Regions from separate parts of the Homo sapiens genome. Here region 2 is linked to region 1. Evidence: fine-mapped expression QTL. Tissue or cell type: whole blood. Region 1 holds a variant in brackets; the other region holds the start of a gene. All regions are shown on one strand. Distances are between the middles of the regions.

What was found. PIP is the estimated chance that this variant, and not a neighbour inherited with it, causes the effect.
Region 2: it holds the start of RGS3, and the variant in region 1 is fine-mapped to the expression of RGS3 in whole blood (TOPMed, PIP above 0.99).

What each region holds. Positions count from the first base shown.
Region 1 is chr9:113,592,387-113,597,585 of GRCh38, forward strand. It overlaps RGS3 (regulator of G protein signaling 3), which reads left to right. Exons shown (of 23, transcript NM_001394167.1): 20 at 2,044-2,145; 21 at 2,533-2,594; 22 at 3,213-3,379; 23 at 4,382-5,199. The coding sequence ends at 4,567. Among named protein-coding and RNA genes, the nearest start is that of RGS3, 130 kb to the left of the region's middle. The variant G/A (reference allele first, on the strand shown) is at 3,014.
Region 2 is chr9:113,461,550-113,466,668 of GRCh38, forward strand. RGS3 (regulator of G protein signaling 3) reads left to right here and starts at 2,178. Exons shown (of 23, transcript NM_001394167.1): 1 at 2,178-2,332. The coding sequence starts at 2,254. RefSeq lists enhancers at 1,081-2,035, 2,036-2,990.

The DNA.
Region 1 (5,199 bases):
TGTAGGGAAGCAGTGTGTGGCGCAGAGGGCAGGCATCCCGGGTGCTGGAGCAGCCCTGTCTAGCCTCCTTTCAATGTAGGTGCTGCCTTTTGAATTGCCTGAAGCCCACACTTTTTTTTTTTGGAGACAGAGTCTCCTTCTGTCACCCAGGCTGGAGTGCGATCTTGGCTTGCTGCAACCTCCGCCTCCCAAGTTCAAGCAGTTCTTGTCCCTCAGCCTCCCAAGTAGCTGCGATTACAGGTGTGTGCCATCACACCCAGCAAATTTTTTTTGTACTTTTAGTAGAGATGGGGGTTTTGCCATGTTGGCCAGGCTGTTCTCAAACTCCTGGCCTCAAGTGATCTTCCCGCCTCGGCCTCCCAAAGTGCTGGGATTACAGACATGAGCCACCATGCCTGGCCTCTGAAGGTCATACTCTTAAAAGCTTAGACGAAGAGTCTTAGAACATCTACGGTAATAATAAGAATAACCATTAATGTTTATTATGCCCCGCACTGTTCTGTGTGTATTTCATATGTAATCTAATTTAATCTTTACCACTACTTTTATTTTCCGTTCTGTTCTTTCTTATTGACCTTACCCTTATTTTACACGTGAATAAACTACTGTGCAAAGAGGCTAAGTTACATGGCAAGAAAGTGGTGGGGTTGGGACCTGGAGACCTGGCCTGCTGGCTTCTGTTTGAGGAAACAGCTTGACAGAGAAAAAACCTTGATAGGAAACTTGAGAGATCAGGAAACGTGTCAAAGGGCACACAGCTGGTAACTGCTGGAGCTGGGATTTGAACCCAAGACTAGCTCCAGAGCCTGGGATCAGCCTCCCCTGCAGGACTCTCCTTCATTAGACAGGGTGTCTAGGTCTTAGTGCCATTTTAAGCTTGAATAGCATCAGAAGTATAAATGCTTCAAACTTACCAAACCCCCTTGAAAGTTTAATTATTAAATTTCTTTTGCACGTCTTTAGTTATGTGATTTTTGAATAATCAATTTTTCATTTTCATTTTTGGTTTGAGTCAGCATTTTCCATCTTTGGGAGGATGGAGACCAAAACTTAAAGTGAAACATTTATTATTCGAAAATCACAAAACCATGCACACAACATTAAATAATTAAACTTTAAAATGGTGTTTTTGTAAGTTTATAGGACTTGTACTTCTGAAGTTATTCAGGCTTAAAACTACTAAGATGTTGGGGTCCTGCTGTATATTCATGACTGGATGTCGCCAATGCAGGTGACTGAGGCTGAGAGGCCGGCTGGCAGGAGCCATTCTCTGGGAGGTGCCCTGTACAGGGGGTCTAGGGAAAAGAGGGGCGAACATGAGCAAGAGGCATTTAACTCCTTTCTTGCCAGCAGTTTCACCCAGTGCTGAATTCTGCTGCCTCCTTGGGGACCGGCAAGGCTAAAAATGGTTCTTGGCTAAAAATAGCCAGTCCTGCCACCCCGGTGGTGGGCAGTGCCTCCCCTGGCTCCCTCCTTCCCTTTCAGCAATTTGCTGACTTGTCCCCCACCCCCCACCACTGTCTCCCTGCTGCCATGGTAACGAGGAGGCCAGTCACAAATAGCTGGGACTGGCTTCCTGCCGGGGCGGCCCCAGAGGCTGTCCCTTGCAGACACATGCCCCTTTCACGGCTCCCTCTCAGGGTTGGCCAGAAGGAATTTTTTTTTCCGCTCCCCCTCCTGGTCCCTCCCATTTCCTGGCTCCTCCTGTCTGAGTCCCAGCCCCGGCTTGTGCCTGGGAGTCCAGTCATCAGGCCAGGATTCCAGAGAGCGTGTGTGGCTGCAGCCTGCACCGTTGCTGCCCGCTGCCCAGGACGCGGGGTGGGGGACAGGAGCCAGAGTGGTGCCTCCTACAGACCAATCTGCGGCCCCAAGGTGGGGGGCCCTACAGAGATGCTCCGAGGCATGTACCTCACTCGCAACGGGAACCTGCAGAGGCGACACACGATGAAGGAGTAGGTGCCCTCGACCCAGCTCTCCCGACTCTGGATTTGCAGGGGCGAGTGGGCCAGGCTGAGCAACCCTCTTTTCTGCTTCTGTCCCCAGAGCCAAGGACATGAAGAACAAGCTGGGGATCTTCAGACGGCGGAATGAGTCCCCTGGAGCCCCTCCCGCGGGCAAGGCAGACAAAATGATGAAGTCATTCAAGTAGGTCCTCCCTGGCACCCTGGGACCCTTTGGGGAACTCACTGGCTCCCCGGGGAGTAGGACTGAGTGGTAGGGTTGAGGGGAAGGGGCTTGCCGGCTTGATCCAGCTCTGGGGGAGACAGGCTTTCACAGAGGGAGCTGGGTACCTGGCAAGCAGCTACCCTCACAGGGAGCAGCTGCCCTAGGGGGAAGGCTAGGTGGGGTGGAGATGGGGGCTGGAAGGGACCCTGGCCCCGGGAAAGAGGGTGGGCCTCCTTCCTGGGCGCCCCAGCTGGGCTCAGCTGCAGACTGGGCCCAGGGCAGTAAACAAAGGCCGCCTGGCCCAGCTTCCCCCAAGGTTCCCAAGCCTCTCAGTGCCCTCACTGTGTTTCCTCCCTCACCCCTCAGGCCCACCTCAGAGGAAGCCCTCAAGTGGGGCGAGTCCTTGGAGAAGCTGCTGGTTCACAAATGTAAGTTGGGCCTGCCTGCCCACTCCCTGTGCCCTCTCTCCCTCTCCCCTTCGCCCCCATCCAGACCCTGTGTAGCTGGTGCTAGAGAGGCCGCCTTCCCTCTCCTCGGCCGTCAGGGTGTCCTTGCTGTTGCGGAGGGGCTGAGCCCAAGCTGAGGCCCTTGGTCTGGCCTTGGAGCCAGCTTCTGCCAGCCCCTCCCCGTCCATGTGAGCTGGCACTGCCTGCCGGAGGCCCGTGGGACCTGTGTGCTCAGATCCATATTCCCAGAATAAGAATAAACATTTCTACGTACTGAGGGCTTTCACGGCGCCAAATGTGCCTGCCATCTCATGGGCAGGGTCCCATCGGCTCCTCCCAGGGCTCCGGGAGACAGAATCGATAGTCCCCATTTCACAGATGAAGACACTGAGGCATAGAGA[G/A]GGGGAGACCCCACTGAGACCCTGAAAGAGGCAGTGGCAGGGCTGGGGCCACATCCCAGGGCTCCTGGCTGTCGGGGACGGGCATTGTACTCAGCTCCCAGCACGCCCATCTTTAAAGTCCTGTAGGGGTAAGCTGAGGCATCTTAAGGGCAGGAGAGGCTGAGTTTGCCTCTTACCCCAGGATCCGTTCTCCTCACAGACGGGTTAGCAGTGTTCCAAGCCTTCCTTCGCACTGAGTTCAGTGAGGAGAATCTGGAGTTCTGGTTGGCTTGTGAGGACTTCAAGAAGGTCAAGTCACAGTCCAAGATGGCATCCAAGGCCAAGAAGATCTTTGCTGAATACATCGCGATCCAGGCATGCAAGGAGGTAGGACCTCAGGGCAGACCCTCCGCTCCTCCAATCCCCAGGGCCCAGTGGCCCTTCAGCTGCAAGGTGGCAGCCAGCAGCACAGGAAGGGGAGAGGCCAGAATGACTCCATGAGCCCAGGTACCCAGCAGGGAAGATGCAAGCTAGGATCAGGGGAAGAACAGAATCCCAGTTAGTAATAAAAATGGCCACCACCAAGGCACTGCCGCATGCCAGGCATGTGCTGAGCCCTTTATGTATGCGTTCTCATGTTTAATCCACACAACAACCTGTGAAACGAAGAGACAGGCTGGGCACAGTGGCTCATGCCTGTAATCCCAGCACTTTGGGAAGCCGAGCCAGGCGGATCACTTGAGGTCAGGAGTTCGAGACCAGCCTGGCCAACAGGGCGAAACCCCATCTCTACTAAAATTACAAAATTAGCCAGGTGTGGTGATGGGCGCCTGTGGTCCCAGCTACTCGGGAGGCTGAGGCAGGATAATCGCTTGAACCCGGGAGGCGGAGGTTGCAGTGAGCCGAGATCGCACCACTGCACTCCAGCCTGAGTGACAGAGACAAATCATAATTGCTCCCATCTATTGAGTGCCTACTGTGTGCCAGGCACTATGCGCAAAGCACATTATATGGATGATCTTGCTTGGTTTTCACGCTTTGAGGAATGTACTATTATTCCTAGCTGGTAGATAAGACAACTGAAGCTCACCGCACTTAAGTAATTTGCTTCAAGTCACACACCCAGGTGTGGCACTGCTAGGATTTGAACCCAGGAAGCCTAACCCTCAGGGTGGTATTTTCAGCCTTATAAATGCTGCCAGCCCTACAGGAAATGACTGAGCCAGGACTTGAATCCTCTGGTCTGAGGGTCTCTACTTCAGATGAACCTTAAGATGTGGGGCAAAGGGGCTTGGAGGTGAGAGGCTGGATGGGTCCCTTCCAGGCACATGGGCCCTAGGGTCAGTCCCCAGCAGGCAGCCCTGACCATGTCCCCCTCTGCCTCCCCAGGTCAACCTGGACTCCTACACGCGGGAGCACACCAAGGACAACCTGCAGAGCGTCACGCGGGGCTGCTTCGACCTGGCACAGAAGCGCATCTTCGGGCTCATGGAAAAGGACTCGTACCCTCGCTTTCTCCGTTCTGACCTCTACCTGGACCTTATTAACCAGAAGAAGATGAGTCCCCCGCTTTAGGGGCCACTGGAGTCGAGCTCAGCGTTCACACCAGGCGGGCTGGGTCCCCTGCCCACCTGCCTCCCTGCCCCCTGTGACGGAGGGGGCAAGCAAGCCCCCAGAGGCTGTGTCTCTGGACAGACGGATAGACATACGGAAGCGAGGCCTGGACCAAGAGAGGCCCAGGCTACTGGAGGAGTAGAAGGATGGGCCCCGTGGGGTCCCCACTGCCCCGGTACGAGGGGGCCCAAGACCCTGGCAGGTCAGGGGCCCTGGCCAAGCCAGATCTGGAGCTGCTGCTCCCTGCTGCGGAGACCGCGGAGGCTTCGCGTTGACCAAGTTCCTTAAAGAACTGGCTGATGGGGCAGGAGGTCCAGGCCTGGGCTCTCGGGCCCTCCTAGAGGGCCATTGGAGCTTGCAGCTCAGACCCCCACTTTGAGTTTTATTTATTTAAATAGTAGTTGGATGCTTGGCACGTCGTCCTGTAATAGGAAACCCTTGCCTCATCAGTTTTCCTGATTTACAAGTGCAATATTTTAGCCAATGCCTTGGGAGAAGCTGCCATGCAAAGGTGGACACCATTCTCCAGCTTCAGGGGATATGCTCGTCCCGGGCACCGGTGGCAGGCAGCTGGCCTTCTGGACTAAGGCAGC
Region 2 (5,119 bases), 130 kb before region 1:
GCCAGCTCAGGATCAGGCTGGCCTTGCAATCTTCCAACTGAATATGTTAGCTGCAGAGTGGGGCAGGAGTCAGGAGGGGACCTACAAAGCAGTAGAATCTTTGTTCCCATTACCGGGTGTAAGTGCCCAGTGTGGGCCTCGGTCTTTTCTCTCCTAGGTCACATTCAGACAGCACACCTTTGCCCAATTTTCTTTCTGGATCTCACCGTCCTGAGTGTTGTACCTGCAGGTTGCTCACAGCCTCTGGAGCCCAAGATAGTCTCCCCTTTGGGAGGAGGCTCTACAGTGGTCCCTGGCGAAGTTGTGAAGAGGTGACTATCATCTCAGGCACATCACCTTCCCTTTTCCCTGTGGGCCTTCCTTTGCTGTTTCCTGAACACCATGCTTTCTAGTTCCTACTGGGAGTGAACACACCTTGCATGGAGCATCTTCAGGCCATGGCTAACTCATGCTCCCATCTTGCTCCTGCAGGTCTGCCACGTCTCTGTGCTCAGTGTCCTCTCTACATCCTGTGGCTTGAGCCTGAGCTTGCCCATATTCCCTGGCTGGATGGAGTGGCTAAGCCCTGATATCGCTCTGCCCAGAAGAGATGAGTGGACTCAAACTTCTCCAGCCAGGAAGAGGATCACGCATGCCAAAGTCCAGGGTGCAGGTAAGTCCATCTGTCACTGGCTTGAGGCTAGGAGAGTGGACCTGCTCTTGTTAAAGGCAGTGTTCACCATGTGTGTGTGTAACCGGGGTTGGAGGGGGAGAGTGGGGTGGGGTGGGGGGGTGCAGTAAAGAGCAGGGCAGGACTTCACGAAGTGCCAGGATTCAAACAATCCTACGGCATTTATGTGATTTATCACCAGTTTGCTGATTCAGGGCTCCTTCTGCAGTTTCTGCTCCTCGCTGGTGGCCACCTGACCCTGTGGCGTTTGCTCCTTCCACCTGCTGTTGGCCATGGGGCAGATGTGGAGGCCAAGGAAGAATAGGACAATGGCGTTTGGGGCAGACAGGCCTGGGTTCAAATTTCAGCTCTGCCTATTCCTAGCTCTGCAAACCTTGGGCATGTCACCTGTCTTCTCTGCCTGAGGTTCAGATTTCTTCCTGGTAAATTGGGGCTAATACTTATTAGACTTACCGTGAAGATTAACTGAGATGATGTGTGTAAATTGCCCAGCTCAGCTCAGCCTCTGGCATCTGGTACTCAACACATAACTCTTCTCTCCACTTTCTGTCTTGCATCTCCCCATCTTGTTTTTGAGTGGATCACTGAACCACAAATATCCACTTGGCGATGAAGTCTGGGGAACAGGGACAAATACCAACACTTCCCATTTTTAGATTTACACGAGACTAACAGCTTTCCTTCCCACAGTGGCAACAGAGATTTGCAGAGCAGATGTCTTGGTGTGAAACTGCTACGAGGAGGTGTCCTGTAAATGTTTGCTGACAAAGCAGCAAAGCAGGGTTTGACCTTCCAGCTCTGCCTCCCCGCACCAGGCTGGGGGATTCACCCACCCCACTCCGTTTCCTGTGCGTTCCTCTTTCTCAGAGGCTGTGGGCCTGTCCTGCTGTCCGATGGCATCAGGCTGTGGGACGGGGGGCCATCAGGTTGGTTGGAGCAAGCTGCTCCCATCCGGACCTGTGTCAGGCAGCACTTGTTCAAGAGGAGGCTCAAGAGAGTGATCCAGGATGCAGGGTTTGGGAAGAGGATGCAGCATGGTGGGGGGCGACCTGTCCAAGCGCAGAGAACACTTTTCCAAACCTCACTGCCCTGGGCCATCGGGTGCTCCTTTGCCTTTGCTTGGATCTAATGATTATAGGCCTGAGCTTCAAAGCAGGTTATAAACCCGACTAATTGCTGGTCTAGGAGAGCTGGACGAGGAGGCCAAGCCTGCCCAGAGTGGGCACCCCGGACTGGGCCTTCTCGTGGGACTGGCATTTCCAACCGGGAGCGCGGTGCTGGGGCCGGGATACCCGGGGTGGCCGCACCGTCCTGCTGGCTCCTTGGGTGGCTGCCGTCGCTGCTCAGCGCGGGTCGGCGGCGCCGCCTCCCCCACCCCGGCCCAGCTCTGCTCCGGCAGGTGGAACTCTCCCCATTCAAACCCGCGCGGGCCAATCAGGGCCGGGCGCGCCCTGGCCGTTCCAACGCTTGGGGCAGCCCTACCTCCCGCTCGCGCTCCTCCCGCCCTGGAGACTCCGGTTACTGGGGAGCAACACAGCCGCCTCGGGTTGCAGACGCTCCTGTCCGGGTCGCAGTGGGACGCCATGGAGCGCTCCCTGCACCGCGTCTCCCTCGGGAGCCGGCGTGCCCACCCGGACTTGTCCTTCTACCTCACCACCTTTGGTAAGTGCCCGCTGGGGCTGGCGGCAGGGGCTGCTTCACCCTGCTCCCAGCGCCCAGAAACGCAGCCCCTCGTGGTGACAGGGGAGGCTGGGAGCAGGTGCTCTTTCTATCTAGGGGCACCTTCTCTGGCCCCTTTCTCCTGTGACTGCCCAGGAGGGGCTCAGGGCACAGGCTCAGTCCAAGCAAGCTGCTGGACACCACCTGCTGCCCGGCCATGAGTGCCAACTGCGGTTGGTTCTGCCTCACTTGGCTGGAATAATCACGCTCTGGTTAATCTTTCAGAGACCTGGGTTGTCACCACGGAGTTTCTCATTAGCAAGCAGCTCAGGTTAAATCAAGGTCTTGTTATAGCAACTGGAGATCTCATTCACCCACTTTCCTTTGGCTCAGGGAGCGGACAGGTGCTGGGCCCTTTGGCCCTGCTGCCTTGTGGGGAGGCTGCAATTTGACTTTGTTGGGTATCTGAGCCACAGTGGAGATGGGAGAATTCTCTCCTCCAAGAAAGAACAATCCCTTAGGAGGGTCCCAGGGCTGCCTCAGGGTTTGAGGTGGAAAGAAGTGAACAGTAGGCTTCACTCCCAAGCCCCTAAGTAGCAGACTGAGTTCCCCCAAATAACAGCTGGGCGGCAGCTGCCCAAAGGTCTGGGCAAACCTGGCCTTCCTGGTAGCCATAGTAAAGGTAACAACCCTACCCTTGAGGGTAACCCTTCATTTCCTCACTGGTCCTGCAACTCTCTGTGGAGAGGGGTTATTTTTCCTCTGTGAAGACTTGAAACCAAGAGATCTTCCATGAGCCAGTGGCAGAGTTCGTAGCTGAGCTCAAGCTTTCCAGAGATGACCTGTCCAGCGCATTTTTGTTTGAACTTGCATACAATTTCCTTCTAAAGGTTGGGGCTGTTACTGAAACATTACTGGACATTGCCCAGCTTTCAAAGACAGAGTGCCCAAGGAGTTTGGTCCCTCCCTGGGGTTCCTGGCTCTTCTGTTTTCAGGCTTACTCCTGCTCAACATATTTGGTTTTCCACAACCTGCTTTTTTTCCTTAGGGGTAGAGGGAATGATGGAAGAGCAGTGGCTTGGCCTCTGAAATTGCCTGACGTCTGGCAGCAGGAATTCACTGGTCTAGTTGGTGGACGATAAAGGGCAATTAACTAGCCATCATTTGTTGAGAACTTACCATTGCCATTCCTTATGCCAAGTGTTTTACCTGCATTATCTCACTTAATGCCCCAGCGTAGGAGGCAATTCCTGCTAACCCCATTGGGATGCAGGGCTCTGTGAGACAAGGGTGGTTTCCAGGATGATCTGTATTGGCTGGGGTAGGAGTGATCAGGAAAGGGTGTCAGGGAGCTGTGAGGCCCTCTTACCTTAGCTGTGTCCTGATTAAAAAGTAAAAATATGTTTGCTTTTTTCCTCCTTATTATCATGGTTACATGTGTTTACTGCTGAAAACTTAGTGAAAAGAAGAAAGTGAAAATCACTTGTAATCTGACTTCCCAGGGAGACCACTGTTAACTTTCTGATTTATATCCTCCCAGGCTTATTTCCACACCTATTTCTGTGTGTGTGTGTGTGTGTGTGTGTGTGTGTGTGTGTGTGTGCCTGTGTGTATTTAGGGGTCAAATTTCAACACAATTGAGATCAAGTTTGTATGGACAATTTTGTAACCCATATGTTTTCCTTAGTGGCCTGATGTGAATATTTCCTTGCATTGGTCCATGTTCTTCTATTAGATTAATCTGCCTGCCAGATCTGGGAAGCTGAGGAGGGTTCAGGCCCAGCAGGGAGTGGATCTTCCTGCCCAGCCATGGCCTCAGGGCTGAGTCTGATGGGTATCAGGGAAGGCTGCTGCTTGAACAAGTGACTGTGACCTGAGTGTGCAGGAGGCAGACAGGAGCCTGGGTGGGGTGGGAAGCCACCTGCTCTTATTCGTGCAGGCTCCTCTCACATCTCTCTAAGGATGCTTATGAGAGCATTTGAGAAATTCTCTCCTGTTTCCTGCACTGGCTCTGTTTCCCTGGGTGCCATTTGTCGTGGTGCCCCTCTTTCAGGCTGCTGATTTTCTTTATCCACTGTGATCTTCACTGATCTGCTTATGAGCAAAGATTCCTATCAGTGGTTTCCAAACCCAGCCAAATATCAGAAGCATGTGGGGAGCCTGTTAAAAATACACAGATTCCTAGAATCTTCTTCTGGAGACTCTAGTTTAATAGGTCTGGGGTGGAGCCTGAGAATATGAACACTTAAGAAGCCATAGAGCGTTCAGACTGTCATCCAGGTTTGGAAGCTATGGATTCAGAGTCAGTTTTGGTAGCAATTGGGACCACTTTTACTGTGAAGGTTTTGGCTAAGTTTTTCTCAGTTCACTGGCCTTTCCTTAGCAAAGTAGGTAGCCCCTGGCCTTCTACTGTGAGCTTTGCCTTGGTAGAACCAGATGAAGATGTTGCTTAGCTGGTAGTTTCCTGAGCACAGACATGTAAAGGGAGCATAATCATCTATGGAAATATAAAGAGACAAAACTGTTTTGATGAGAATTCCCTTCGGGGAGAGTACTGCATGATATATGTATTTGTGTGTACACATGAACACAACCCCTTGTCCCCCAAAAGGAGTATGTTCAAGTGACATTAATTGAAGGACACTGCGTTCTGAGGAGGTGGCCTTACTTCAGGGGAAGGGAGTAGGCAAGCTGAGGCTAGGACCCAACTACTCTAGAGGGATTTTTTTTTCTTTATTGTGAAAAATGATGTAATTTGAAGTCATTGTAGGTATACATAATATTTTTCTC